Linked DNA regions of Homo sapiens: region 2 is linked to region 1. Evidence: fine-mapped expression QTL. Tissue or cell type: blood mononuclear cells. Region 1 holds a variant in brackets; the other region holds the start of a gene. All regions are shown on one strand. Distances are between the middles of the regions.

Region 1 (11,939 bases):
CAGCCCTCTGCTGCTTTTTCTCTCCCACTGGCTAATTTACGAATCTACATAAACTCTCTATAAGCGCTTGAGACTTGAGGATGAAGATAAGCCAGTGGGTTGGGTGTTAACTACTGTAAGGATCTGGAGGGAGAGACAATTGAGGAAAAAAGGTGATTTTTCTACTTTGTCACAACTAAGGTACGTGAGCCTAATCTATTTTGTTTTTTTCTCTTTTTATTTGTGTCATATCTTTTTCATACAGTGGGTGTTTTGCTCCTACAACTTTCCATACCTGTGTCCTTGTTGATTTGAGTTTTTCACAGTGTCCCATGATGTGAGAGCTGTCAACCGTTAGTATTATAAAGCTCTGTACACAATGGATGTTACGATAAAATAGTCTAGTGGCCATCAGGAAATTGTTGCCCTATTATCTCTGCCAGTGGGAACATCTATTTCACAGGGCTCAGAAAATGAATTAAAGGTTCTGGGTATGATGAGGAGATTCCCTAGACCAAATGACCCCTGCTCTTACCAGTGACGGAAAACAAAGTCCTAATTGCGGCTTCGACGATCTCGAGACGCTGATAGTAATGTAGTGGGCTGTTCTTCCGCGTGTGGCTAAAGTACTTCAGCGGGTACTTCACTGACCAACACAGCCCAATGATCAGGAAGAAACTCCCTGGAAGCGCGTGGCCCTTGAAATTTGCCATCAGGACACCTAAAAAATTAGGGGAAGGCTGTTAGGTGGCTAATGAAGCAAGCAAACAAATGTATATTTTGGCAGGAAACACAATACGTGCCTGAGATTGCAAATCATAAGCCACGTTAAGAAGGATCAACACATTCTCATAAAACAAGCCTTATGTTACGTCACTGAAGTCTCATCTGTAAAGTGAGTTGCATAACCAACTGGACTCCACTGTCTGTAATGCTTTAAACATGTGGGTAAAATAAAAGGATGAGGGTGGGGAAAGAGGAGGATAGGTAATATTTATTGATCTCAGATAGAGAAAACTTCCAAGCCATAAACATAAAGGGGGGAACTAGAAAAGAAAAACGTTCAGCTATATAAGCATCTTTTAATATCAAGAACATCAAAAGGTAAACAACAAATCAGAAACATGCTTGTAGCAGTTGGCTATTACATTAGAGTCTTTACAAATTGATAAGAAAAAGACCGTAGAAGAATAGGCAGAAGACATGAACGGATGATTCACAAAATAATACAAACAAATTATAAATCTCCCGGAAATTAGAGATGGGCAAACGAAAGCACAACATCATTTTTCACCCAACTGGAAAATAATTTTATAAAGTTTTGGTGTGGTGGTCTAGTACAAATGAACCTGGTCAATATGATTCACAGTTTGTAAAAATCAGCATAACGATGTAAACATCACCTTATTCCAAAAATTTTCAGGCATGATTTGCTGTTATCCCATTTGCAGTAGCATGAAACTATAGCTAGGATTTATTCAGAAGTAGATTGATTATTTTCCCCACTGGCCTGGGTGGTTACCTAAAGAATATGTAGGGTGGGAGAAAAATACCAGTTGTTGGTGATTGCTGTGGTTTGAATGTGTCCCCTCCAAAATCCAGGTGTTGCCAAGGTGATAGCATTAAGAGAAGGGGACTTTTTTTTTTTTTTTGAGGCAGAGTTTCACTCTGTCACCCAGGCTGGAGTGCAGTGGCACGATCTTGGCTCACTACAACCTCTGCCTCCCAGGTTCAAGCGATTCTCCTGCCTCAGCCTCCCGAGTAGCTGGAATTACAGGCACCCGCCACCACGCCTGGCTAATTTTTATATTTTTAGTAGAGACGGGGTTTCACCATGTTGGCCAGGCTTTTCTCGAACTCCTGACCTTAGGTGATCTGCCCACCTCGGCCTCCCAAAGTGCTGGGATTACAGGTGTGAGCCACCACACCCGGCCGAGAAGAGGACTTTTAAGAAGGGACTAGGCCATGAGGGCCCCTCCCTCCTGAACTAGGAGCAGATGCCCTCCCTCATACAGGGGTTGGCTGGAGGGAGCTGGTCCCCTGTTTGTCCTCCTGCATGTGAGGATGCAGCCCTCAGCAGACACCAGATGCTGCTGCCTTGATCTTGGACTTCCCAGCTTTCAGAACAGTGAGAAATAAATTGTTGTTCTTTATAAATTACCCAGTCTGCGTATTGTGTGATATCAGCACAACAGGGACTAAGACAGAAATTGGTACCAGAGGAGTTTATAACATTTATAACCAGGGGTTATAACAAATATGTAAAAATGTGGGGGTGGCTTTGGAACTGGATAATGAATACAAGCTGGAACAGCTTTGAAGTGAGTGCTGAAAAAAGCCTGGATTGCCATGAACGGAGCACTAAGGATGATTCTGGTGAGGGCTCAGAAGAAGAGGAGAGCTGTAGATGTGGGATATGAGCTGTGGGGAAAGCCTCGTTCTTAGAGATTGCCTAAGTGGTCATGAACAGAATGTTGATAGAGATACCGATGGTGAAGGCAATTCTGATGAGGTCTCAGACAGAAATAAAGAACAAGGTATTGGAAACTAGAAGAAAGGTTATCCTTGTTAGAAAGTGGTAAAGAACTTACCTGAATTATGTCGTTTCCTAGGACTTCATGGAGGGCAGAACTTAAGAATGATGACCTAGGATATTTGGCAGAAGAGATAGAAAGCAAAGTGTTCAGGATGCTGTGTGGCTTCTCTTAACTGCTTATAGAAAAACATGAGAGGCCAGGTGCGGTGGCTCACGCCTGTAATCCCAGCACTTTGGGAGGGCGAGGCAGGCAGATCACCTGAGGTCAGGAGTTCGAGATAAGCCTGACAAACATGGTGAAACCCTGTCTCTACTAAACATAAAAAAATTAGCCGGGCGCGGTGGCAGGAGCCTGTAGTCCCAGCTACTCGGGAGACTGAGGCAGGAGAATCGCTTGAACCCGGGAGAGGGAGGTTGCAGTGAGCCGAGATCGCGCCATTGCACTCCAGCCTGGGTGACAAAAGCAAAACTCCATCTCAAAAACAACAACAACATCAACAAAAAAAAAAACGTGAGAAAAGAGAAATAATTTGAAGGCAGAATTTACCATCAAAAGGAAAGCTAAAGGTCAATATCTGAAAAATTCTCAGCCTAGCCATGAAAAAGAGAAAAACGTGTGTGTAGGAGAGAAAACCACGGGTATGGCCACAGGACTGATAAGCAGGTTAGTATGTGTAGAAGGAAGCCAGGTGCTAGTTATCAAGAGAACGGGAAAATGACCCCAAAGTCATTTCGGAAAATGACTCCAAAGCCATTTCGGAGAATGACCCCAAAGGCATTTGGGGCTGCCTTGCTCATTAGAGGCCCAGAGGGTTAGAGCCTTGCGGCAGAACAGTTTCAGGGGAAGGGCCCAGGCGCCTGCGGGGTCTCAGAGATCACTGCCTAGGGCCACCTCAGGTCTCTGCTCCCCACATTTCCAGCAGAGCATTCCTCCGTCACCCTAGCTGTGGCTCAAGCAGGACCAGGTGCAGGTTGGGCCACTGCTCCAGAGGGCGCAAGTTATAAATCTTGGTGGCATCCATGTGGTGCTGACTCTGTAGGTATGCATACTGTATGAGCTGTGGGAGCACGGCCGCCTCCACCTCGATGGAAAGGATTTCTTTGACCTCAGGGCCCGAGCAGAGATTTGTCACCGGGGTGGAGCCACTGCAGAGAGCCCCCAGTAGGCCAATACTTAGGGAAGCCTTGGAGGTGGTATCACCTGGAGCCTTGGGGGCCCAACACCCACCCCAGTGTGTTCAGAAGGTGAGATATGGAGTCAGATAATATTATTCTCAAGCCTAAGATCTAATGTTGAGTTTTGGACTCACTTGAGACCTGTTGTTACTCCTTTCTTCCTTCCTGTTTCTCCCTTTTGGACTAGAAACATCTGTCCTGTGCCTGTCACGCCATTGTATTTGAATCAAAGTACGCAACTCATTTGAATTCACAGGCTCACAGCTGGAGAGAAATTTGCCTCAGGATGAAATTTATCTCAAAGTGAATGAGTCTCTCTCACACCTGACTTAGATAAGATTCTGGACTTAGATTTTAAAGTTCATGTTGGAATGATTTAAGGCTTTTGAGGGCAATTGTGGTGGAATGAATGTATTTTGTTTGTGAGAAGTACGTGAATTCTGGGGGGCCAGGATTGGAATGCTATGGTGTGAATGGGTCCCCTCCAAAATTCAGGTGTTGCCGGTGTGATAGTATTAGATGTGGGGCCTTTAAGAGCTGATTAAGCCATGAAGGTTCCTCCCTTGTGGATGGGATTAAGCACCCTTATAAAGGGCTGAATGGAGGGAGTTGCTTCCCTTTTTTGCCCTTTCTGCCATGTGAGGCTACAGCCTTCAACAGACACCACATACCAGTGCCTTGATATTGGACCTCCAAACCTTCAGAACTGTGAGAAATAAATTTGTTCTTTATAAGTTACCCAGTCTGTGGTATTTTGTTGTAGCAGCACAAGCAGACTGAGACAGTGATCTAGAAAAGACCACCCCGGAATGTAAAGCATTCCTGGTCTGCACAGCATATTCCAACCCTGGACACAGGCCCGTCCCTCTAGCACCAGCTACATTGTCAGGGCTGTTTCACATCTTACACATTGACAGATGAGGGTCCCACCCATCATCAAGAACTTCATAAGCCCTCTCCCTCTCCCTCTCCCTCTCTTTCCACGGTCTCCCTTTCATGCCGAGCCGAAGCTGGACTGTGCTGCTGCCATCTCGGCTCACTGCAACCTCCCTGCCTGATTCTCCTGCCTCAGCCTGCCGAGTGCCTGGGATTGCAGGCCCGCGCCGCCACGCCTGACGGGTTTTCGTATTTTTTTGGTGGAGACGGGGTTTCGCTGTGTTGGCCGGGCTGGTCTCCAGCTCCTAACCGCGAGTGATCCGCCAGCCTCGGCCTCCCGAGGTGCCGGGATTGCAGACGGAGTCTCGTTCACTCAGTGCTCAATGGTGCCCAGGCCGGAGTGCAGTGGCGTGATCTCGGCTACAACCTCCACCTCCCAGCTGCCTGCCTTGGCCTCCCAAAGTGCCGAGATTGCAGCCTCTGCCCGGCCGCCACCCCGTCTGGGAAGTGAGGAGTGTCTCTGCCTGGCCGCCCATCGTCTGGGATGTGAGGAGCCCCTCTGCCTGGCTGCCCAGTCTGGAAAGTGAGGAGCGTCTCTGCCCGGCCGCCATCCCATCTAGGAAGTGAGGAGCGTCTCTGCCCGGCCGCCCCTACTGGGAAGTGAGGAGCCCCTCTGCCCGGCCACCACCACCCCATCTGGGAGGTGTACCCAACAGCTCATTGAGAACGGGCCATGATGACAATGGCGGTTTTGTGGAATAGAAAAGGGGGAAAGGTGGGGAAAAGATTGAGAAATCGGATGGTTGCTGTGTCTGTGTAGAAAGAAGTAGACATGGGAGACTTTTCATTTTGTTCTGTACTAAGAAAAATTGTGCCTTGGGATCCTGTTGATCTATGACCTTACCCCCAACCCTGTGCTC[T/C]CTGAAACATGTGCTGTGTCCACTCAGGGTTAAATGGATTAAGGGCGGTGCAAGATGTGCTTTGTTAAACAGATGCTTGAAGGCAGCATGCTCGTTAAGAGTCATCACCACTCCCTAATCTCAAGTACCCAGGGACACACACACTCTGCCTAGGAAAACCAGAGACCTTTGTTCACTTGTTTATCTGCTGACCTTCCCTCCACTATTGTCCTGTGACCCTGCCAAATCCCCCTCTGCGAGAAACACCCAAGAATGATCAATAAAAAAAAATAAAAAAAAATAACTTCATAAGCTTTTAAAAAAATGCTTACAGTTTTCAGAAAATCAACTCGTATGAAAGACTTATAGTGAAAAGCAACAGCCTCATGTTCTGTCCCTCCTCACCCCCAGCAAAGCCACTTTCAACCCTTTCAGCTGTTTCCTCCGGTATTTACCTCCACCATTGTAGTTAATGGGTGGGTGCAAACGTAATGGCAAAAACCACAATTACTTTTGCACCAACCTAATGCTTTGTGCATGTGGTCATTTGTTAATCCATCATTGTCAGGCATCACCTACCAACTTCCTGGAGCTCTCTCACAGCCTCTCCCTCTTCCCCACCCTGCTATTTTCATAGCAGTTGCATTATACTCGTTTGTTGAAATCATTAGTTTCATTATCATGGCTCTGTAAATCCAAAGTCCTTACCAGGGCCAATAAGGCCATATACGATCCTGAGCCATCTCTTTGATTTCTCCCAGCACTCATCCCCTGCCACACTGGATCCCTTCCATTCCCTTAAATGGCTGAGAACACTCCATTCCTGCTTCAGGACATTGCACTGTCTGTGGCTTCTAGAACAGTGTTCCCACAGGCAGCCAACAGTTGTCTCCTTCACTTTACTCAGGTCTCTGTTCAAATGCCACTTTATTCCGTGACTCCTGCATGTACAATAGAGGCCTGCCCCACTTTTCAATCTATGTAGACTTGTAACTTTTCTGTAAAGTATGAATCACCATCTGATATTGCAGACTGATTTTTTTTTAAGCATCTGTCATCATCCACTAAAATGTGGGCCTCTGGAAAGCAGAGATTTGATCTATTTGCTTATTGTGGTTAGTCCACAGCTTACCGCAGGGCCAGACACAGAGTGAGCACTCAGTAAATACTTGTGGAATGAATGAATGCAGATCCAAGTAGTGTATTATGGGTTATGTTTTCTCTAACACTTTTTTTTTTTTTTGAGAAAGAGTCTTGCTCTGTCGCCCAGGCTGGAGTGCAGTGGCATGATCTCTGCTCACTGCAACTTCCACCTATGTGTTCAAGCGATTCTCCTGCCTCAGCCTCCTGAGTAGCTGGAATGAAGGATGGTGCCACCACGCCTGGCTAATTTTTGTATTTTTAGTAGAGACAGGGTTTCACCATGTTGACCAGGCTGGTCTTGAATTCTTGACCTCAGGTGATCCACCTGCCTTGACCTCCCAACATGCTGGGATTACAGGCGTGAGCCACCGCACCTGGCCTAACACTTTTGTTTTATTCTGGGGTTAATAATTGCATTGTTTTTTTACTTGTTTATCTTCCCAAATACTGATCACTATGTTTTTCCTCCAAAGGGCTAAAAGATCTGTCAAATGTTGACCAAATTAAATTCTAGACATTTTAACCTCAGATAACTTATTTCTGTTTTATTCCTAGAGACCTGTTTTGAGAATATTCTCTTTAAAATTGAACTGGCTGTCTGTCCTCCTGGGGCATTCTGCACCATCTTACAAATTCCCTTTGCCTTTTTCTTGTTTTCCACCCACCCTACCTTTTGCTGCAGCTTCCAGAAGAGGCTTTTCCTTGTTTTGGATCCCCTGTTTCTTGGATGCCATTTATTTTTCTTTCTTGGCTTATTTCCATTAATATAAGTCTAGCATTCCCAAAACTATGCATAAAAGGGAAATTCCTTGAGAATTTGCATAGTTGACAATCTCTGCCTTTTTATTGGGACGGTTTATTTAGTCCATTCATATTAATGTAATTATTGGTGTGGTTATATTTATAGTTGTCATTTTGCTATTTGTTTTCTGTCACTCATGCATTTTTTTGTTCCTCCGTGCCTCATTTCCTGCTGTCATTTATGTCTAACAAGTAATTTTAGTATACCATTTTAATTACTTTTTTCATATTTTAAGCTATATATATTTTTTTCCTACTGCATGCTCTAGTCTAGGGATTATAGTATGCATCTTGAAGTTACCATGGTCTATTTTAATAGTAACTTAATTCTGATAAAATATAGTGACTTTGTTCCAATATATAATAGCTCTATTTCCTACCCCTTCCTTCATGCATACACACACACACACACACACACACACACACATCTATAATAGCTCTATTTCCTACCCCTTCCTTCATGCATACACACACACACACACACACACACACATACACACACACAAAATAAGCCATTAATATATATGAATGGACTAAATAAGCCACTCTAATAAACAGGCAGAGACGTGTGCGTGTGTGTGTACACATATATGTACATATCATATTTATGTTTGGGCTTGTTATAAAGTTTTTAAGATTTAAGAATATATAAAGTCTAGGTTATAAACTAATGGTGTGGCAATTATTTCTTGAAGCAATTTTACATTTTTCAAAGCATGAATATATATATATTCTTTGATATTTAATCACATATTTACCATTTCCAGCGTTCTTCATTTCTTTCTGTCCATTTTAATAACTCTAAAACCTCATTTTCTTTCGACCTGAAGGATGTCCTTTAATATTTTTTCAGCTTTATTGCGGTATAATTGACAAATAAAAATTGTATATACTCAGGGTATATAACATGATGATTTGATATATGTATACATTGTGAAATGATTGGTATGATCAAGCTAATTAACAGAGTTATCACCTTACCTGGTACCCTTTCCTTTCCTTTGTAATGAGAATCCTTAAGATCTACTCTCTTAGCAAATGTCAAATATAAGGTTTATTATTATTACTATTATTTTTAGAGACAGGGTCTCGCCCTATCACCGAGGGTGGAGTGCAGTGGCATAATCATAGTTCACTGCAGCCCTGAACTTCTTGGGCTCAAGTGATCCTCCGCCTCAGCCTCATAAGTAGTTAGGACTACAGGTGCAGGCCACCACGCCTGGCCAATTTAAAAAATTTTTTGTAGAGACAACGTCTCGCTATGTTGCCCAGGCTGGTCTTGAATGTTTGGGTTCAGGCTATTCTCTCGCCTCAAACTCCCAAGGTGCTGCGATTACAGACATAAGCCACTGTGCCTGGCCAGTATATTATTATTAATGATAGTCACCCTCCTGTACATTAGGTCTCCAAAATTTACTCATAACTGCAAGTTTGTACCCTTTGACCAATATCTCCCCATTTCCCCCACTGCTCCAGAACCCTGGTAACAGGTATTCTATTCTGTTTATATCCAGTTTGATTATTTTAGATTCCACATATAAGTGAGATCACACAGCATTTTTTCTGTGTCTGGCTTATTTCCCTTAGTATAAGGTCTTCAAGGTTCATCCATGTTGTTGCAAATAGCAGGATTTCCTTCTTTTTTAAGGCTGAATAATATCCCATTCTATATATATATACACCACATTTTTTTTGTCCATTCATCAATCAGTGAACACTTAGATTGTTTCCATATCTTGGCTATTGCAAACAAAGCTGCAGTGACCATGGGAGGGCAGATATCTTTTCAAGATAGGGAGTTTATTTGCTTTCGATATATACACAGAAGTGAAATTGCTGGATCATAGGGTAGCTCTATTTTTAATTTTTTGAGAAACCTCCACACTGTTTTCCATAATAGATGTACCAATTCACATTCCCACCAACAGTATGTAAAGGTTCCCTTTATCCACATCCACACCAATCTTGTTTTGTTTTTTGTTTTGATTTTTTGGCAACAGCCATCCCAACAGGTATAAGGTAATATCTTATTGTGACTTTGATTTACATTTCCCTGACGATTAGTGATGTTGAGCATCTTTTCATAAACCACTTGGCCATTGTATGTCTTCTTTAGAGAAATGTCTATGCAGGTCCTTTGCCCACTTTTTTTTTTTTTTCTCAAAGCAGAAAATTTATTGCCTACATTCTTTGACTACAATGCTATAACAACAGAAATATTTTCTTTTACAAAAATCTCAATCACCTTAAACATTTTTTAAGTCACTAAATAACTTTGGGTCAAAGAAGAAATCAAAACTGCAAATACATAAAAGCAAACATCAATTGGCATTGTATACATTAGAACATATGAAATAGATTATAGTAAACAATTATTAAAACACAAAGAATCCAGGATGCGGAAAGCTGGGATGAGTATTACACCCTAACAGCAACGATAGCAGATAAACTACAAAATCATAACTTTTCCTAAACTCATTTGAGAACTGAGATCATAGGGCAATCAAAAAGTCTAAAATAGGCTGGGCACAGTGGCTCATGCCTGTAATCCCAGCACTTTGGGAGGCTGACTGAGGCAGGCGGATCACCTGAGGTGAGGAATTCAAGACCAGCCTGGCCAACATGGCAAAACTCCATCTCTACCAAAAATACAAAAAATTAGCCAGCCGTGGTGGCGCATGCCTGTAGTTCCAGCCACTCGGGAGGCTGAGGCAGAAGAATCGCTTGAACCTGAGAGGCGGAGGTTACAGTGAGCCGAGATTGCACCACTGCACTCAGCCTGTTGCCTACTTTTTAATAGGGTTATTTGTTTTTTACTATTGAGTAGTAAGAGTTTCTTGTATATTTTGGATTTAGCTCCTTATTGCATATATGGTTTGCAAATATTTTCTCCCATTCTATGGGTATCTTTACTCTCTTCATGGTTTTCTTTGCTATGCAAAAGCTTTTTACTTTGATGCAATCCTACTCCTTTACTTTTGCTTTTGTTGCCTGTGCTTTTGTTGTCATATCAAAAAAGAAATCAACGCTAGCACCAATGTCATGTATCTTTCCCTGCATATTTTCTTCTAGGAGTTTTACCATTTTAGGTCTTACATTTAAATCTTTCATCCACCTTTAGTTGATTTTTGTATATGGTGGAAGATAAAGATCCAATTTCCTTATTTTTTTTTGCATGTGGATATCCAGTTTTTCCAGCACCATTTATTGAAGATACTATTCTTTCCTCATTCTTGTTCTTGACACCTTGTAGAAGATTAGTTAACCTTATATGAGTGGGTTTATTTCTGTGCTTTCAATTCTGTTCCATTGCTCTATGTGTGTTTTTATGCCAGTACTATATTGTTTTGATTGCTATAGCTTTATAATATAATTTGAACACAGGAAGTGTGATGCTTCTGGCTTTGTCCTTCCTGTGTGGTTCTCTTTGTGTTTTTTAAATTCAGTGTTGGTTGAGTTTTAAAAAAAATCTGCAATTCAATATCTTTCATCAAACCTGGGAAGCTTTCAGCTATTACTTCTTTATTTTTTTCTCTCTCCCTTTCTGCGGCTTCCATTACACGTATGTGGGGACATTGAGCATCATCCCATGTGTGTCTGAAGGTCTGTTCATTTGTCTTCATTTTTCTTTCTGTTTTTCGAATTGGATCATTTCTATTGGTCTATTTTCATGTTCACTAGTTCTTCCACTATCTCAAAATCTGCTATTGAGCCCATCTAGTGAATTCGAAATTGTACCTTCCAACTCCAGAATTTCCATTTAATTCTTTTTACAGTTTGTATTTCTCTATTTAGATTCCCTATTTGTCGAGTCATTTAAATCATATTTTCTTTTAATTCCTTGAACAGTTTTCTTTAATTCTCTGAGGCCGGGCGCAGTGGCTCATGCCTGTAATCCCAGCACTTTGGGAGGCCGAGGCGGGTGGATCACTTGAGGTCAGGAGTTCAAGACTAGCCTGGCAAACATGGCGAAACCCCATCTCTACTAAAAATACAAAAAATTAGCCGGGCGTGGTAGTGGGTGCCTGTAATCTCAGCAACTTGGGAGGCTGAGGCAGGAGAATCACTTGAACCCAGGAGGTAGAAGTTGCAGTGAGCTGAGATCACGTCACTGCACTCCAGCCTGGGCGGGCGACAGAGTGAGACTCTTGTCTCCAAAAAAAAAAAAAAAACAAAAAAACAAAAGAAAACTTCAAGCCCATTACACTTCCAACCCCTGTCAGTCCCTCTGTGTGGGGGTTGGAGAAGGCCAGTTTTCAAGTCCCTTATCTCCCTTGCTGGGCTCTCTCAGGTCTTCTCCATATATGCATAGTTTTTTCAGTCAGCCAGGGATGCGTGAAGAGCTCACTTCAATACTTCTCTGATTCTCATTTCCAGAATCCCCCTGTTAAATTCCTGGTTGGCCTGCTGCTTGCCCCAAGTGGGGCTGCAACCTCAAGCTAGCGAAGCTGTGGATTTGTCCTGCTCATTTCCAAGTGTTCATTCCCATGTTAAGCCAGCAAAGCCAAGGATTTTCAACCCCCCAGCCA
Region 2 (11,939 bases), 32 kb after region 1:
CCCATGAGTTTCCTTGGCTCCAGGAAATGACTTCTTGGTGATGAGTTCTCAAACAACTAAAGAAAATGTAGCAACTCCTACACCCCATTCCAGGGGGTTGGGGGAAAGACTGGTCAAGAAGGGAAATGTAAAGATCATGGTGTATCATGTGCCTTAGTTGGGAATAATATATACACCAAACATTGACATATCAAAAATTTAGGATATAACCGTACTGGGAACTTAAAAGAAAGGGATGTGAAGGTGAGAGGGAGGGTGGGGGTGTAAAGGAGCGAAACCCTCATCCTTCTTGGTAGGATGTCAATAGATGTCATCCAGAACTGGAAAAGAGAAGAAGAAATGGCCCGTATCTGCATGCTATTTAGAATATGGTAATATCAGAAAAACACAACCCAAAGCATTGAAAGTAATTGCCGCTAGGGTTCTATACTCAGTATAAACTCAATGAAAACCTTCTACAATGAACGACTTCTAAGACTATACATTGATTTATGTTGACCAAAGCAGATAATTAAAAAATAAAGTATACCCTCAAGAGGAGTGAGGCAAAAAGCTAACAGAAATAAAATAAAGTCGCTTTTGCTAAACTACCTGACATTCGGTGTTTCTCAAAATGTATTCCCGCAACCACCTGCCCTCAGATGACCTGGCGTGCCCGTCCATAATGGAGAATTATAGACCCAGCCCAGACCTACATAATCAGCAGTTCTCAGAGTGGTCCTTGCACTCTACCATTTAAAAAAGTTCCCCTGGACCCACTGCATTACCCATTGCTTTTTAGTAAAACAAACAAAAAACCAAAACAAATAACAACCTATTTAGAGACAGGATCTATGACTCATAAAACACACTATGGCAGATGCTGCTAGCTGCCTACCCAATGTTCATTCTCCCCCCGCCTTATTAACAAAATTCCTATTTTGTTGTTATTATTATTTTTTTGAGATGGAGTTTCGCTCTTGTTGTCCAGGCTGGAGTGCAAGTGGCATGATCTCGGCTCACTGCAACCTCTGCCTCCTGGGTTCAAGCGATTCTCCTGCCTCAGCCTCCTGAGTAGCTGGGACTATAGGCGCCTGCTAGCACGCCCGGCTGATTTTTTGTGTTTTTAGTAGAGATGGGGTTTCACCATGTTGGCCAGGCTGGTCTTGAACTCCTGACCTCAGGTGATCCACCCGCCTTGACCTCCCAAAATGCTGGAATTACAGGCGTGAGCCACTGTGTCTGGCCCAAAATTCTTATTTTGATGTATTGGCAACGTGTCTGTCTCAAACACTAGATTCTCTCTGGTTCCGTCACCGTTAACAGTGTGTATGTGATATGGTTCTGGCCAATGACATGTAAGAAGTCTTTTGGGGTGGGCTACCAGAAAAGCTGTTATTATTATTATTTATTATAAAGAAGGACAGGCCAGGCGTGGTGGCTCACATCTGTAATCCCAGCACTTTGGGAGGCCGAGGGGGGCAGATCACAGGGTCAGGAGTTCAAGACCAGCCTGACCAACATGGTGAAACCCCGTCTCTACTAAAAATACAAAAATTAGCTGGGCGTGGTGGTGCACGTCTGTAATCCCAGCTACTTGGAGGCTGAGGCAGGAGAATCACTTGAACCCAGGAAGCGGAGGTTGCAGTGAGCCGAGATTGTGCCACTGAGAGAGACTCTGAGTCAAAAGAAAGAAAGAGATGAGACAGAGAGAGAGAGAGAGAAAAGAAAAGAAGAGAGAAAAGAAAAGAAAAGAAAAGACAAGACAAGACTCTTCTGGAGCATGCCTCTGCCCGTCTTTCTGCTGCAACTTGCGGAAGTGAGTATGAAAGCTCCATGCTAAGGAGGGTGGTGCGGGAAGACACAAGGAGCCTGTCTCAGATGACGTTCATATCGGAACCCCTTTCCCAGCCCCAGCCTTCTCACCTCCAGACTTCTCGTTCTCTGAGAAAAACAAACTCCTTACTTGTTTAAGCCGCTGTAGTAGGGTTTTCTGTTCTTGTAGCTGAATGAACGTCTAATGACATCTCACACTTTTTCAGATGTTTATCTGACATACCACATTTTATGTATGCCTGCTATGGGCACTGTGCTAGGAATAAGACAAGTAAAGCTCTCTTTGTCATGGAACCAGGAGCACAGTTAGAACAGAAGTTAGAACTTTAGCCACTATAATAACGGCTACAGTTATAATAACAGTTAGAACAGAAGGTCCATAGGCATTTGAGGCTGGGATTCAAGGAGGTTATGTTTGCTGTCACAGACCTCAAACCAAAAGAGTACATCAAAATAAGTCACTGGATTTATACATTTGGCAAATTCTCAAGGGACCACATGACAGAAGGAGCAAAAATCTGAACATTGTTTTTAGCTGTAATTCTCCAATGAAGTAGATTTGGGGAAGCAACATGAGGTACTTGCTTTATTTTTCTTAAATCCGGTTTTCTTCCTTGAAAAACCACAAGATTGGACTTGACAATCTTTAAGGTTATACTCAGCTCTAAGATATTTTTGTAATTATATGGAACAAAGATGGGCATGAAATATACCAAACGAGAGAGTTTCTAAATTTAGATTCTGATAATTCAAGTCAGAAAACATATTAAGTGTTCGGGAAAAACAAATCACAATCTTCCATCACAAAATTCAACAAGAACAACAAAAACCACTCCAGAGGCAGCTGTGGTATTCTGGAAGGAATGTTGGTTTGAGTTCTGGCTCTGCCATTTAATTACTGGCTAACCCTGGACCACATACACAATATCTCTGTTTCCATCTCCTCATTTTTGAAATACGGATTCTAATCTGACCTGAACAGTGCTGTTTACAAACATCGCCTTGTGCTCTATAAAGCCCCATTATGATTTCAACAACCAGCAAGATAATGGCTTATGATATCTAAGTCCTGGCAAGGAGAATGCGGGTGTGTACCTTGCTATATTCAGTTGAACTCTGCATCACATACAGAAGGCTGATAGACCTTTTAGCTTTCCTTTTTCCTCCAGTAGTGTAGCTTGTGGCCATTTAAGTTTTACACAAGAGAATAGAAAAGAGAGATAAAATTTGCTAAAATTCAAATAGTCTATTTGTGTTTGTTTCTAGCCTCAGTGAAGGTTTTGGGGAGAGGGGTAGCTGGTTAAAAGAGTAGAAGCTTAAGAGTTCAAAGAAAGTGTGAGGAGGACAGCACTCACCTGTGGCCTCTAATTGTTCATATTCAGTATGGTCTCATACTGGGAATAATCTAGTGTTTGTCTTATGATCTTTCTATAGAAACAAATATGGAATGTGTCTATAAGTACCATTAGTTGATGACACACTAGTGACTTTAATTCTCTTACAGTAAAAAGTTTTGCAATAGCAAGGACTTTGGCTAGGGGAGTGACTCTATGTGTGGTGAAACTGTCCTCACCCATTTTTCATTTGAGGAAAAGAGATAATCTTTTGATTACACCCAACACAGGTAACATCTGTACTTTGAACAGTTAAGTATAGCAGCTGATGTTTAACTGCAGGTAGGGGGGAGATGAGAAACAGAAATAACTGGTGCCAAATGTGAGATTCAATTACCTCGACCATCACAACCAACATCAACCAGAAGGGTGTGGGAGGAACTCATGGAATAAATGGGAACAGGTGTGGCCTGAGGATAAGTAAGTGGGGGCACTGTTTCCATCTTCATGAAGATGTGAGAGGAAATCAAAGCTCTTTAAAAAGAAGGAAATGGAATGCTTGGCTCCTGTAATATCAGAACAAATAATGCACAGCCAGAGGTCATGCCTCACCTTCTGCTTATCTCAGTCACCTCCACTTGTAAAATCAGTGGGCCATATTCAATAAAACCTTCATATCAGTTCCATATCTTTTCCCAGAAACCCCAGGAACAGAGGGAGCCAATATCCTTATTAAACCAAGAAGCTCACTGTCACAAAGAGCTAAGTCTGACGCCCCTGGGCCCCTACCTAACCACGTGTCCTGATTCTTTCCATAACTTCCCACTGCACAACATCCAGGTTATACTGAAGATATTACACATCTGGTTAAAAACAGTACACGTCTCTCATGAACAATAAGCCATCCTTTCTATTAAAATGAGTGTAAAATTGCAGGTAAAATGCTGTAGGCAGGCCTGTTTGGAAGGCTATGCGACCCTAGGAGACAAAAAGGTGCAGGAGGAGGAAAAGGGCAGACACCGCAGAAAGCGGTCGAAGAGAACGTGAAAGAAGTGGCCATTTCTAGCTGGGCGCGGTGGTTCACGCCTGTAATCCCAGCACTTTGGGAGGCTGAGGCGGGTGGATCATGAGGTCAGGAGATCGAGACCATCCTGGCTAACACGGTGAAACCCCGTCTCTACCAAAAAAAAAAAAAATACAAAAAATTAGCCGGGCGTGGTGGCGGGCGCCAGTAGTCCTAGCTACTCGGGAGGCTGAGGCAGGAGAATGGTGTGAACCCGGGAGGTGGAGCTTGCAGTGATCCGAGATTGCGCCACTGCACTCCAGCCTGGGCGACAGAGCGAGACTCCGTCTCAAAAAAAAAAAAAAAAAAAAAAAGAAGTGGCCATTTCTGCAACTTTTAGGAGAGCTACCTGCCCTCAAATTTTGAAAGGGTTTCTATTTCTTAAAGTGCTACGTTTCCCTGGCTGAAACTCACATCTTTCTTCCCTCTAGGGCTGGATCAAAGCTTCAGAGGTTGTTTCTCTGGCCCTAGACAGGGCCACCCCCGCAAATTTCTCCCCCACTGCGCCTGACATCCGCTTCCATCCATGGCTCCATTAACGGAAGCTAAGCACTGGCTCGGGGGACTTTATCCACCGCCCGGTGTTATTAGATTCCAGGCTTCCTGGCCTCAGGAAAGGATCTGGCTCGTGTATTTGTGTATCGCAGCTAACAAGGAAAGGCAGTCGGTACCAGTGCCCAGAGCTATGTGAGCTGTGACTGGTCACAGCCCAGGAGCCAGATGGCATCCCCGGGGGCGCGCGTCCCCGGACTCACCGGGCAGACGGAGGCCCGGGGCTTCACACCTTCCCCTCACCGGGCAACGCGGCAGACCTGACTCGCGGGGGACTGAGCAATATTCGTTCCAGGGCCGCGGCCAGCCGGACAGAGGCACTCGGGGGCGGTGGGAGTAGTGTGCGCACCGGTTCCGCAGCCCGGAGGGGGCCCCAGCTGGGCTTCCGCGACACCAGGGCCCTCCATCCCCTCCCGTCCTCCCCTAGCGCAGCCTTCACCCCTGTCCCAGAGCCCCTCCCTGTCCGCGTCCCCTCCCCCGCAGGTCCCCTGCGAGTCGGAACCTCCTCTCCATCACAGCCCCGCTCCTTGGCGGGGCCCCCTCTCCCTTCGAGCCCTCCTCCAGGTTCGAGCCCCCTGCGGGTACGGACGTCTGACCTGTGCCCAGCGCCTCGCAGCCGTCTGCAGCCCGCGCCGCGCGCCAAGTGCGTCCGCCCAGAAGCAGGTGCAGCTCCAGGCCCGCCCCGCCCCGCTGCGCCCCGCCCCGCTCCACTCCGCCAGGCCTGGCAGCCGCCAGCCCCTTTCCACCCTTGACCGCCCTTCCCGGTCCCGGCCAGCGTGCGGGGCATCTGTCGTCAGGTCCGCACTTCCTCCAGGCCTTTGACTTTCCCGTGGAGATGTCTCTGGCCTCAGGAACTCCCTAAGCTGTGTGCTTCAGGAGAGGCTGGTTCCTGAGTCACCCAAGAGGACTGCAACCAACCTGGACCTCCTGAGATGCAAAGAGATCGCAGGGCCTGGGAGGCGGCGAGGACCCTGAGAACAGGCTGTGGCTCCGAAGAGTGTTTGTTACCAAGCCAGGCAACCACTGCGAACACACCGCAGAAACAGCCACGGATCACCGTCCAGCAAAGGAAGAAGGTGCCAACGGTCCATCAGGGACCACAACCCAGTTTTTTTAGTTTAAGTTTGGTGGCTAAGTTTGAGTGTCACATAGTTCATTCATTCCTTCATTCATTCAACAAATCTGCCATGTTCCCATCTGATAACAGATCTGACAGGTGGGCACTGTTCTAGGTGCTGGCGATAGAGCTAAGAAGGAAACAAAGTTCCTGTCCCGGAGAAGGGGGCTACCTGCTGAGGAGAGCATGACTTTCTTTGTGGTATTGTGCTGTGGCAGCAGGGTCCTCTTCTGTAAGCTACTGAGAGGTGAAACCCGCTGGGCTTCTGGGTCGGATGGGGACTTGGAGAACTTTTCTGTCTAGCTAAAGGATTGTAAAAGCATCAATCTGCACTCTGTGTCTAGCTAAAGGTTTGTAAACACACCAATCAGCACTCTGTAAAAATGCACCAATCAGTGCTCTGTGTCCAGCTAATTGGTGGGGACTTGGAGAACTTTTCTCTCTAGCCAAAGGATTGTAAATGCACCAATCAATGCTCTATGTCTAGCTAAAGGTTTGTAAACACATCAATCAGCACTCTGTAAAAACGGACCAATCAGCACTCTGTAAAATGGACCAATCAGCACTCTGTAAAATGGACCAATCAGCGCTCTGTAAAATGGACCAATCAGGAGGATGTGGGCAGGACCAATCAGGAGGATGTGGGCGGGGCCAATGAGGGAATAAAAGCTGGCCATCCGAGCCAGCGGCAGCTGCGTTTGGGTCCCCTTCGATGGTGTTGGGGTTTTGTTGTTTCGCTCTTTGCAATAAATTTTGCTGTTGCTCACCTTTTAGGTCCACACTACCTTTATGAGCTTTAACACTCACAGTGAAGGTCTGCAGGTTCACTCCTGTAAACCAGCGAGACCAGGAAGCCACCACAAGAAACAACTCTGGAGCCGCCACCTTTAAGAGCCATAACACTCACTGTGAAGGTCTGTGGCTTCACTCCTGAAGTCAGCGACACCACGAACCCACAGGGAGGAGCAAACAACTCCAGACGCACCACTTTTAAGAGGTGTAACACTCCCTGCGAAGGTCTGTGGCTTCACTCCTGAGGTCGGCGAAACTACGAACCCGCTGGGAGGAAGGAACAACGCGGATGCGCCACCTTTAAGAGCTGTAACACTCCCTGCGAAGGTCCGCGGCCTCACTCATCAAGTCGTGCATAGACCACGAACTCTCTAGAAAGAAAAAACTTCGGACACACCTGAACATTTGAAGGAACAAACTCCGGACACACCATGTTTAAGAACTATAATGCCGTGAAGGTCCGCGGCAGGACCGGGACCAGGAACTCTTCAGAGGGAACCAATTCCGGATACACAGCTTCGTGGAATGGTTCTGCACTGTGTGTGTGTGTGTTTCCCGTCAACCCTGTGCACACTATTAGAAGAACACAAGCGTTAAGGCTCCCTCTCAGTCCTGCCGGTAAGAATCCAGGGCTGATGCACCTATTAAAAGCTTCTCAGGAGGCCTGGGGAAGTGGGGGTTGAGAACCACGGGTCTAGATCTCTAAGATGCCTGGCAGCTTATTCCACTGTTGAGGGCACTGGCAATCAGGAAGGGCTTCATGGAAGAGATGTTTGCATTTGGGTTTTAAAGCAGGGCCACAGCTAGATATTAGCAGTGCAGAAGGACACGGGATCCGACGGGCAGCCTGTTGACCAAATGGCTCCGTTTTTATAAAGTCAAAGAACATCACTGTGAAGGATAAGGCATTAACTGGAGCAGACCTTTCCCTGGTAAAACAGAGCGAATGGGATCTGGTGGGAGGTGGTAATGGCCAAGAGGTAGTGCCGTCAGTGAAAAGCGTCATGGAGTCGTGCACCTTACAGGGAGGATGGGCCGCAGCCAGGAGCTGAGAGGGCATCTTTTAAATTTGCCGTCAGCTCAGGAACTTAATCACACATCTCATCCTAGCCCTTGCTCACACCCATTGTTTTAGAAATCGTTGATAGAGTGGAGTCCTGGATGCCTGTTACTCTGGGAGAGGCTGTCCTCTGTCACCAGATCCCTTTTATGGACAGGCATTTTCTTTAGTAATATTTACCTTGTCTACGATGATGAAACAAAGGTGTGACCTCTTAATTGTATAGTTAATGGTGAGTAGAGATGCTTTTTTTTTTTTTACTTTTTATTTTTGAGACAGTTTTGCTCTTGTTGCCCAGGCTGGAGTGCAATGGCGCGATCTCGGCTCACCACAACCTTGGCCTCCTGGGTTCAAGTGACTCTCGTGTCTCACTCTCCTGAGTAGCTGGGATCACAGGCATGCGCCGCCATGCCCAGCTAATTTTGTGTTTTTAGTAGAGTCGGGGTTTCTCCATGTTTGTCAGACTGTTCTTGAACTCCCGACCTCAGGTGATCTGCCCACCTCAGCCTCCTAAAGTGCTGGGATTAGAGGTGTGAGCCACCTCGCCCGACGGAGATGCTTCTTAATATTAAAAAATCTAAACAAAATAATTTCTGCTTCAAATTATAATAACCAGGTACCAGGACAAAACCAATTTTTTGTTGTGTGTGTGTGTGTGTGTTTGAGACGGGCTCACTTTGTTGCCCAGGATGAAGTTCAGTGGTGCAATCATAGCTCACTGTAGCCTCGACCTCCAACGCTCAAGAGATACTCTTGCCACAGCTTCCTAAGTAGCTGGGACTACAGGTGTGCATCAACACGCATGGCTAATGTTTACATTTTTAAAAATTGCAATAGTTTTTGGGGAACAGGTCATTTTTTTGTTACATGGATAAGTTATTTAGTGGTGATTTCTGAGATTTTTGTGTACTCATCACCTGAGCAGTGTACACTGTACCCAATGTATAGTCTTTTATCCCTCACCCTCCTCCCACTTTCCCTTGAGTCCCCAAAGTCCATTATATATATATATATATATATATATATATATATATATGTATGTATGTATGTATTTTTTTTTTTTTTTTGAGACAGTCTTGCTCTGTCGCCCTGGCTAGAGTGCAGTGGCGCAATCTCAGCTCACTGCAACCTCTGCCTCCCAAGTTCAAGCGATTCTCCTGCCTCAGACCTCTGAGTAGCTGGGACTACAGGCGCGTGCCACGACGACTAATTTTTTGTATTTTTAGTAGAGACAGGGTTTCACCATGTTAGCCAGGATGGTCTCAATCTCCTGACTTCATGATCCGCCTGCCTTGGCCTCCCAAAGTGCTGGGATTACAGTTGTGAGCCACTGCACCCGGCCCATTATATCATTCTTATGCCTTTGCATCCTCATAGTTCAGCAAACCCTTATAAGTGAGAACATACACGATATTTGGTTTCCCATTCCTGAGTTACTTCACTTGGAATAGTGGTCTCCAACTCCCGTACAAATTGCTGCAAATGCCATTACTTCAGTCCTTTTTATGGCTGAGTAGTATTCCATGGTGTAAATATATCACATTTTCTTTATCCACTTGTCAGTCGAGGGGCATTTAGGCTGGTTCCATATTTTTGCAATTGTGTATTTTGCTCCTATAAACATGCAGATGCAAGTGGCTTTTTCATATAATGACTTCTTTTCTTCTGGATATATACTCAATAGTGGGACTGCTGGATCAAATGGTAGTTTTACTTTTAGTTCTTTAAGGAATCTCCATAAAGTTTTCCACAGTGGATGTACTAGTTTATATTCCCACCATCAGTGTAAAAGTGCCCTTTTCATCACATCTATGCAAACATCTACTATTTTTTGACTTTGTAAATTATGGCCAGTCTTGCAGAAGTAAGGTGGTATTTCATTGTGGTTTTAATCTGCATTTCCCTGATAATTAGTGATGTTGAGCATTCTTTTTCATGTGTTAGTCATTTGTGTATCTTCTTTTGAGAACTGTCTATTCATGTTCTTTGCCCACTTTTTGATGGGATTATTTCTTTTTTTCTTACTGATTTGAGTTCCTTGTAGATTCTGCATATTAGTCCTTTGTAGGACGCATAGTTGAATATTTTCTCCCATTCAGTGAGGTGTCTGTTTACACTGCTGATTATTTTGCTGTGCCGAAGTGTTTTCATTAGGTAATATCTATTTATTTTTGTTTTTGTTAGATTTGCTTTGGGGTTTTTGGTCTTAAAATCTTTGCCTAAGCCAATGTCTAGAAGAGTTTTTCCAGCGTTATTTTCTAAAGTTTTTATGGTTTCAGGTCTTACATTTAAGTGTTTGATCCATCTTGAGTTGATGTCTGTATAAGGTAAGAGATGAGGATCCAGTTTCATTCTTCTGTATGTGGCTAGACAGTTATCCCAGCACCATTTGTTGAATAGGGTGCCCCTTCCCTATTTGTGTTTTTGCTTTCTTTGTTGAAGATGAGTTGGTTGTAAGTATTTGGCTTTATTTCTGGGTTCTGTATTCTGTTCCATTGGTCTATGTGCCTATTTTTATATTGGTACCATGCTGTTTTGGTACTGGTATAAATCTTGTAGGATAGTTTGAAGTCAGTTAATGCGATGCCTCCAGATGTTTTTTTTTTTTTTTTTTTTTTTTTTTTTGCTTAGTCTTGCTTTGGTTATGAGGGGTCCTTTTTGGTTCCATATGAATTTTAGATTTTTTTTTCTAGTTCTGTGAAGAATGATGATGGTACTTTGATAGGAGTTGCACTGAATGTGTAGATTGCTTTTGACAGCTTTCACAATATTGAATCTACCCATGAGCATGGGATGTGTTTCCATTTGTTTGTGTCATCAGTGATTTCTTTCAGCAGTGTTTTGTAGTTTTCCTTGTAGAGGTCTTTCACCTGCTTGGTTTTATATATATATATATGTGTGTGTGTCATAGATAGTTTTTATTACCTTGAGGTATGTCCCTTCCATGCCAATTTTTCTGAGGGTTTTAATCATAAAGCAATGCTGAAATAACATATTATATATTATAAAATAAAACATTATAATATATAATATATATAATACATATAGCAGCTGTTGTAAAAGGGATCGAGTTCTTGATTTGTGTCTCATCTTGGTCACTGTTGGTATTTAGTGGTGTTACTGACCTGTGAACATTGATTTTTGTATCCTGAAACTTTACTGAATTCATTTATCCAATCTAGGAGCCTTTTGGATGAATCTTCAGAGTTTTCTAGGTATACAATCTTATCATCAGTGAACTGCAATAGTTTGACTTCCTCTTTACTGATTTGGATGCCCTTTATTTCTTTCTCATGTCTGATTGCTCTGGCTAGGACTTCCAGTACTATGTTGAATAGAAGTGGTGAAAGTGAGCATCCTTGGCTTGTTCCAGTTCTCAGGGGGAATGCTTTCAACTTTTCCCTGTTCAGTATAATGTTGGCTGTCGGTTGGTCACAGATAGCTTTTATTACCTTGAGGTATGTCCCTTCCATGCCAATTTTTCTGAGGGTTTTAATCATATAGCAATGCTGAATTTTGTCAAATGCTTTTTCTGCGTTGATTGGGATAATATGAGTTTTGTTTTTAATTCTGTTTACTGGATATATTACATTTATTGACTTGTATATCCCTGCATTCCTGGTATGAAACCCACTTGACTATTGCTGTATTATCTTTAAAAAAATTTTTTTTATAAGTTATTGGGGTGCTGGTGGTATTTGGTTACATGAGTAAGTTATTTAGTGGTGATTTGTGAGATTTTGGTGCACTCATCACCTGAGCAGTATACAAGGCACCATATTTGTAGTCTTTTATCCCTTGACTGCCTCCTATTTTTCTCCCCAAACCCCCAAAGTCCATGGTATCATTCTGTGCCTTCGCATCCTCATAGCTAACTCCCACATATCAGTGAGAACATAAGATGTTTGGTTTTCCATTCCTGAGTTACTTCACTTAGAATTATAATCTCCAGTCTCATCCAGGTCACTGCAAATGCTGTTAATTCATTCGTTTTCGTGGCTGTGTAGTATTCCATCACACACACACACACACACACACACATATACTCACACACATATATATATATACACACACACACATATGTATATATACACGTATATATGTATATATATGTATACGTGTATATGTGTGTGTGTGTGTGTGTATATATATATATATATATATATACACACACCACAGTTTTTTTAATCCACTCGTTGATAGCAT

Evidence for each region. PIP is the estimated chance that this variant, and not a neighbour inherited with it, causes the effect.
Region 2: TMEM45B starts here. The variant in region 1 is fine-mapped to the expression of TMEM45B in blood mononuclear cells (TOPMed, PIP above 0.99).

Annotation. Positions count from the first base shown.
Region 1 is chr11:129,841,236-129,853,174 of GRCh38, reverse strand. TMEM45B (transmembrane protein 45B) reads right to left here. Exons shown (of 6, transcript NM_138788.5): 2 at 515-700. The coding sequence starts at 692. Among named protein-coding and RNA genes, the nearest start is that of TMEM45B, 31 kb to the right of the region's middle. The variant T/C (reference allele first, on the strand shown) is at 5,488.
Region 2 is chr11:129,809,320-129,821,258 of GRCh38, reverse strand. TMEM45B (transmembrane protein 45B) reads right to left here and starts at 5,411. Exons shown (of 6, transcript NM_138788.5): 1 at 5,361-5,411. LOC124902793 (a long non-coding RNA gene) reads left to right here and starts at 6,572. Exons shown (of 2, transcript XR_007062952.1): 1 at 6,572-7,291.